Regions from separate parts of the Homo sapiens genome. Here region 1 is linked to region 2. The links come from fine-mapping of genetic effects on gene expression. A gene starts in region 2. The other region holds a variant in brackets. All regions are shown on one strand. Distances are from middle to middle.

Region 1 (2,909 bases), 270 kb before region 2:
GATACCAGGCCAACACAGTGAAATCCCATCTCTACTAAAAACACAAAAATCAGCCGGGCATGGTGGCAGGCACCTGTAATCCCAGCTACTCGGGAGGCTGAGGCAGGGGATGACTTGAACCCAGGAGACGGAGGTTGCAGTGAGCCGACATGGTGCCACTGCACTCCAGCCTGGGTGACAGAGCAAGACTCCATCTCATAAAAAAAAAAAAAAAAAAAAAAAGGTGGTCTGTATATCTACTATCTACAGTCTTCTTTTAAAAGGCATCATGAGCACTTTAGCTTTAAAGGAGTACTCACCAGAATTAAAAGCACAAAGTTGCAGAGGTTGCTTCCAGCAGTAGAAGCAATGGAACTAAGCGAAAGGCTTACTTGGCTAGTGAGAAGCGGGTGGGGAGCGGTGGCACAGCTGAAAGTTTTTTTTCTTTGTTTTTATTTTTGAGACAGAGTCTCGCTCTGTCGCCCAGGCTGAAGTACAGTGGTGGGATCTCGGCTCACTGCAACCTCCGCCTCCCGTGTTGAAGCAATCCTCCTGCCTCAGCCTCCCAAGGAGCTAGGACTACAGGCACATGCCACCACACCCGGCTAAGTTTTTTTGTATTTTTAGTAGGGACAGGGTTTCACTGTGTTAGCCAGGGTGGTCTCAATCTCCTGACCTTGTGATCCGCCCGCCTCAGCCTCTCAAAGTGCTGGGATTACAGCTGTGAGCCACCGTGCCCCGCCAAACTGAAGGTTTTTTAAAAATCATGTACTGAGGTACGATTCATATCACATAAAATTAACCATTTGAAAGTGAACAATTCAGTGGCCTTTAGTACGTTCAAAATGTTGTGCAACCATCACTACTATCCAGTTCTAGAACGTTTCTACCACGCCAAAGCAAAACCTCTTACCCATTAAGCAATTTCTTCCCATTTCATCCTCCTCCCTGGCAACCTCTGATCCACATTGCGTCTCTATGAATTTACGTACTCCAATGCTTCACAGAAACGGAATCATCTCTTATGTGGTCTTCTTTTTTAATAGAGTCTTTTTGCCTGGCTCCTTTGACTAAGCCTGTTTCCACGGTTCGTCCGCGTTGAAGCACGTATTGACCACGCCTGTTTCCACGGTTCGTCCGCATTGAAGCACGTATTGACCACGCCTGTTTCCACGGTTCGTCCGCACTGAAGCACGTATTGACCACGCCTGTTTCCACGGTTCGTCCGCATTGAAGCACGTATTGACCACGCCTGTTTCCACGGTTCGTCCGCGTTGAAGCAC[G/A]TATTGACCACGCCTGTTTCCACGGTTCGTCCGCATTGAAGCACGTATTGACCATGCCTGTTTCCACGGTTCATCCGCGTTGAAGCACGTATTGACCGTGCCTGTTTCCATGGTTCGTCCGCACTGAAGCACGTATTGACCACGCCTGTTTCCATGGTTCGTCCGCACTGAAGCACGTATTGACCACGCCTGTTTCCATGGTTCGTCCGCATTGAAGCACGTATTGAACACGCCTGTTTCCATGGTTCGTCCGCACTGAAGCACGTATTGACCACGCCTGTTTCCATGGTTCATCCGCATTGAAGCACGTATTGACCACTCCTGTTTCCATGGTTCGTCCTCGTTGAAGCACGTATTGACCGTGCCTGTTTCCACGGTTCGTCCGCGTTGAAGCAGGTATTGACTAAGCCTGTTTCCATGGTTCGTCCTCGTTGAAGCACGTATTGACTAAGCCTGTTTCCACGGTTCGTCCGCGTTGAAGCAGGTATTGACTAAGCCTGTTTCCACGGTTCATCTGTGTTGAAGCATGTATTGACTAAGCCTGTTTCCACAGTTCATCCACGTTGAAGCATGTATCAGTGCCTCATTCCTTCTTTTTTTGAGAAGGAGTCTCACTCCGTGGCCCAGGCTGGAGTATGGTGGCGTGATCCTGGCTCACTGCAACCTCTGCCTCCCGGGTTCAAGTGATTCTCATGCCTCAGCCTCCCAAGTACCTGGGGCCACAAGTGCCCGCCACCACACCCGGCTAATTTTTGTATTTTTTAAGTAGAGATGACGTTCACCATGTTGGCCAGGCTGGTCTCAAACTCCTGACCTCAAGTGATCCACCCCGCCTTGGCCTCCCAAAGTGGTAAGATCACAGGCATGAGCCACTGCGCCCGGCCCCTCATTCCTTTTATAGCTGAATCATGTTCCACTGTATGGATATGCCACAATTTGTTAATCCATTCTTCAGATAATGGACATTTATACTGAGCTGTTTCCACCTTTTGGAGATTGTGATCATGTTGCCATCAACCTTTGTGCATAGTTACCTGTTTGAGTCTCTACTTTCAGTTCTTTTGGATGTGTACCTAGAAGTGGAATTACAGGGACATGCGGTAATTCCACTAACGTTTTAAGGATCCACCAAACTGTTTCCCACAATTAGGAGAGAGAGTTTTTCAAAATCACTATATTGCACTTACAGGAGAGTTTGGAAATTAGTATGGCAGATATCTTTGTCTCCATCACCTGGCACGGTCAATTTGGATTATTTCACCACAATGAATCCAAATATTGTTTAACACTAAATCCTTACTGATCCAGTTGAAAAAGCAGTTAGGGAGAGTGGGACGAGGGTGGAAAGGAAGACAGCTGCTCCCCTAAGAATACTCCTCTTGCGGGGTGCAGTGGAGGGCTTATCCATCAATTACACAAGAGGCTCACTCACTTCTCCGTCAGTGGGCAGAGAGCTGCAAGCGAGGTACACATGTGTTTCACAAAGAAAGGCCTCGAGGAGGAACATATTGCAGAAACCCGCCAAAGGACCAGGTTCAGGTGACAAGTGGAGTACAGGTGTTAATTAGATGGCTCCAGATAAATGTGAAACCGTGCATAGTGGAGCCTACCCATTCTTCACTGCAAAACACAAAATCAGTAGGTCTG
Region 2 (2,909 bases):
TGAAACCCCATCTTTACTAAAAATACAAAAATTAGCCGGGCGTTGTGGCGCGTGCCTGTAATCCTAGTTACTCGGGAGGCTGAGGCAGAGAACTGCTTGAACCCGGGAAGCGAAGGATACAGTGAGCCCAGATCGTGCCACTGCACTCCAGCCTGTGCGACAGAGCGAGACTCCATTACAAAAAAAAAAAAAAAAAAAAGGAAAAAAATTAATTAAACCCATCCAACAAGAGAAAGGAGAAGTATCTCCTAAACATGCCTAGAACATCTCTGGAAGGTTCCAGGAGACACTGGTAAGGGTACCTCTGGGGAGGCGGGTGGAGTGGGAGGAAGACATTACAAAGCAAACCTGTCCTACCCAAGGGCCGCGTGCGGCCCTGGAGGCCAGGCTTTGAATACAGCCCAACACGAATTCGTAAACTTCCTTAAAGCATTACGAGATTTTTTTTAGATTTTTTTTTTAAAGCTCGTCGGCTATCATTAGTATTAGTTTTATATATGGGCCCAGGCAATTCTTCTTCCAGTGTGGCCCACGGAAGCCAAAAGATTGGACTCCCCTGTTCTAAGGTATTCCATTTGTCAGTTATCCAGCCTCCACTCCTAACCTGTTTGTTTAGCGACAAGGTCTCACTCTACTGCCTACGCTGGAGTGCAGTGGCGCGGATCAGAACTCACCGAGCCTCGAATTCCTCAAGATCCTCCATCCTCCGCCTCCCAAGTAGCCGGGACTACAGGCGCGCACCACCACGCCGGCTAATGTTTATAATTTTTGGAGAGACGGAGTCTCGTATATGCACGGACTGGTCTCCAACTCCTGGAATCCCTCCGCCTCGGCCTCCCAGAGCGCTGGGATTCCAGACGCCAGCCACGCGCACGACCAGCCACGCTTATTTGTACAGGATCTTACCTCCCGCCTCTCTGCGAGACCAGAAGCTCCTAAGAGACTGGCCCAGACTCATCTTTCGGTCCCTCATGCTGCTTAACGTGGCAGGTCGGGTGGCTCCGGGTGGCTCCCGTGCCTTATATTTCAGGGACTCCTCACCAGCCTGGGGTTGGCGTCGCCTAAAGTCAACGGGCAGGTGGGCAGTGGAGCCAGGATTCCGCGCTCTGCCCATGCCACGCGCGGCCTTCCCGGAGGCGGGGACCGTGGAGTGTGGAGGACCCCACTGGGCCTCCTGACGGGACTCTTCTCTCGCCTCAAGGCGCTTTCTTGATTTCTATCTAGTAAGAGTGAGAGGACACCCAAGCTACTCCCCACAGCTCATGGAAAGCTGGAGAAAAGCGGAAGAGCAGGTGCCTCCTCAAAGAAGGGATTCTGACAGCAGCCACTGCCCCGGAGAGCGAAACCCCACGCTCTCCCGGAAATGACGCACAGAGGCTCGGTTCCCGCCCCCTCGCTTCCGGGGCCGGGCTTGCTCGCGCGTGCGCACCAGAAGCCAGCAGTGGGGTTGCACACGCGCCTCTTCACGAGGTGGAAACAAGATGGAGGATTCGGCCTCGGCCTCGCTGTCTTCTGCAGCCGCTACTGGAACCTCCACCTCGACTCCAGCGGCCCCGACAGCACGGAAGCAGCTGGATAAAGAACAGGTGAGTGGTTCCTGGGGAGGGTGGCTTGGAAGCAGTGTGGCGGTTACCTCGTGAGGCGCAGGGTGCCGGAACCCGAGTGCGTGCTCGGCGGACTTCCCCGGGGCTGTGGGACGGTCGCTGGCGGGCCGTGTGCCTCAGCTGTCTCTCCCCTTTACACACGTGGGTGGGCGCCTGCTTTCCCTGGTCCTGCGGCCTGGCGCTAGTGAATTGGGTTGCAAGTGTGCTGTGGAGCTAGATGAGATAGACCTGGCGACCTGGCTTAGCTTCCCTATCATTAGCGCTTGACCGAATCGCTTAGTTTTGCAGGTCTGTTACCCGTTATTTAAAGTGGGCCCTTCGGCTCCCCGTTATCCAGGATCGGGAGAGGTAATGAGTGTAAAGCGCTTTGGCCTGGTACATGGTAAGAAGGTGCTCAGTAGGCCGGGCGCGGTGGCTCACGCCTGTAATCCCAGCACTTTTGGAGGCCGAGGCGGGTGGATCACCTGAGGTCAGGAGTTCGATACCAGCCTGGCCAACATGGTGAAACCCCGTCTCTACTAAAAATACAAAAATTAGGTGGGCGTGGTGGCGGGCGCCTGTAATCTCAGCTACTCGGGAAGCTGAGGCAGGAGAATTGCCAGGAGTTCTCAGTAAATGCTAAATGCATTTTGCTTTGCGTTTTTCCTGGGATTACTGCTTTCATCATTGAGGGCAGGAGGGGCACGTTTCCCTCTAGCCCAATCTCTTTAAGTAGAAGAGGTGCCCTTCTGCACACAGTACTGGAAGTGGGTACTTAGGCATGTTTGATGGATTCTTAGATTTCTGTGAATATAAACTGCAGGATCCTAATAGATACGGTTATGGAGGTTACCCCTTGAAATAGAAGTTGGAAGGGAAAAAATAGAAGGTGTGGGAGGGGGCAAATGCTAAATTAGATTGAGAACATTTCATTTATTTGTGTAAGTTATTGTGAAAACATTTCACTTATTTGTCTAATTTCCACTTTGCAGGTTAGAAAGGCAGTGGACGCTCTCTTGACGCATTGCAAGTCCAGGAAAAACAATTATGGGTTGCTTTTGAATGAGAATGAAAGTTTATTTTTAATGGTGGTATTATGGAAAATTCCAAGTAAAGAACTGAGGGTCAGATTGTAAGTTGTGATTTTCTACCTTTGCTGTTTTTATCTGTGTGTTTATTCTTTGTAACTCGAACAATTGCATCATGGTTACTAATGGAAACTTTGCAAACTTATAATAAAAATCTGACGTGAAGTAAAACAACTATGTCCAAAAGAACCATAGAGGCTTGATGTGGTGGCTCACACCTGTAATCCCAGCACTTTGG

Evidence for each region.
Region 1: its variant is fine-mapped to the expression of RSL1D1 in whole blood (INTERVAL, PIP above 0.99).

What each region holds. Positions count from the first base shown.
Region 1 is chr16:12,115,627-12,118,535 of GRCh38, reverse strand. All of the region lies in intron 11 of SNX29 (sorting nexin 29), which reads right to left. Among named protein-coding and RNA genes, the nearest start is that of SNX29, 140 kb to the right of the region's middle. The variant G/A (reference allele first, on the strand shown) is at 1,263.
Region 2 is chr16:11,850,085-11,852,993 of GRCh38, reverse strand. RSL1D1 (ribosomal L1 domain containing 1) reads left to right here and starts at 1,452. Exons shown (of 9, transcript NM_015659.3): 1 at 1,452-1,586; 2 at 2,576-2,715. The coding sequence starts at 1,482. RefSeq lists enhancers at 250-783, 784-1,318, 1,091-2,290 and a silencer at 1,336-1,522.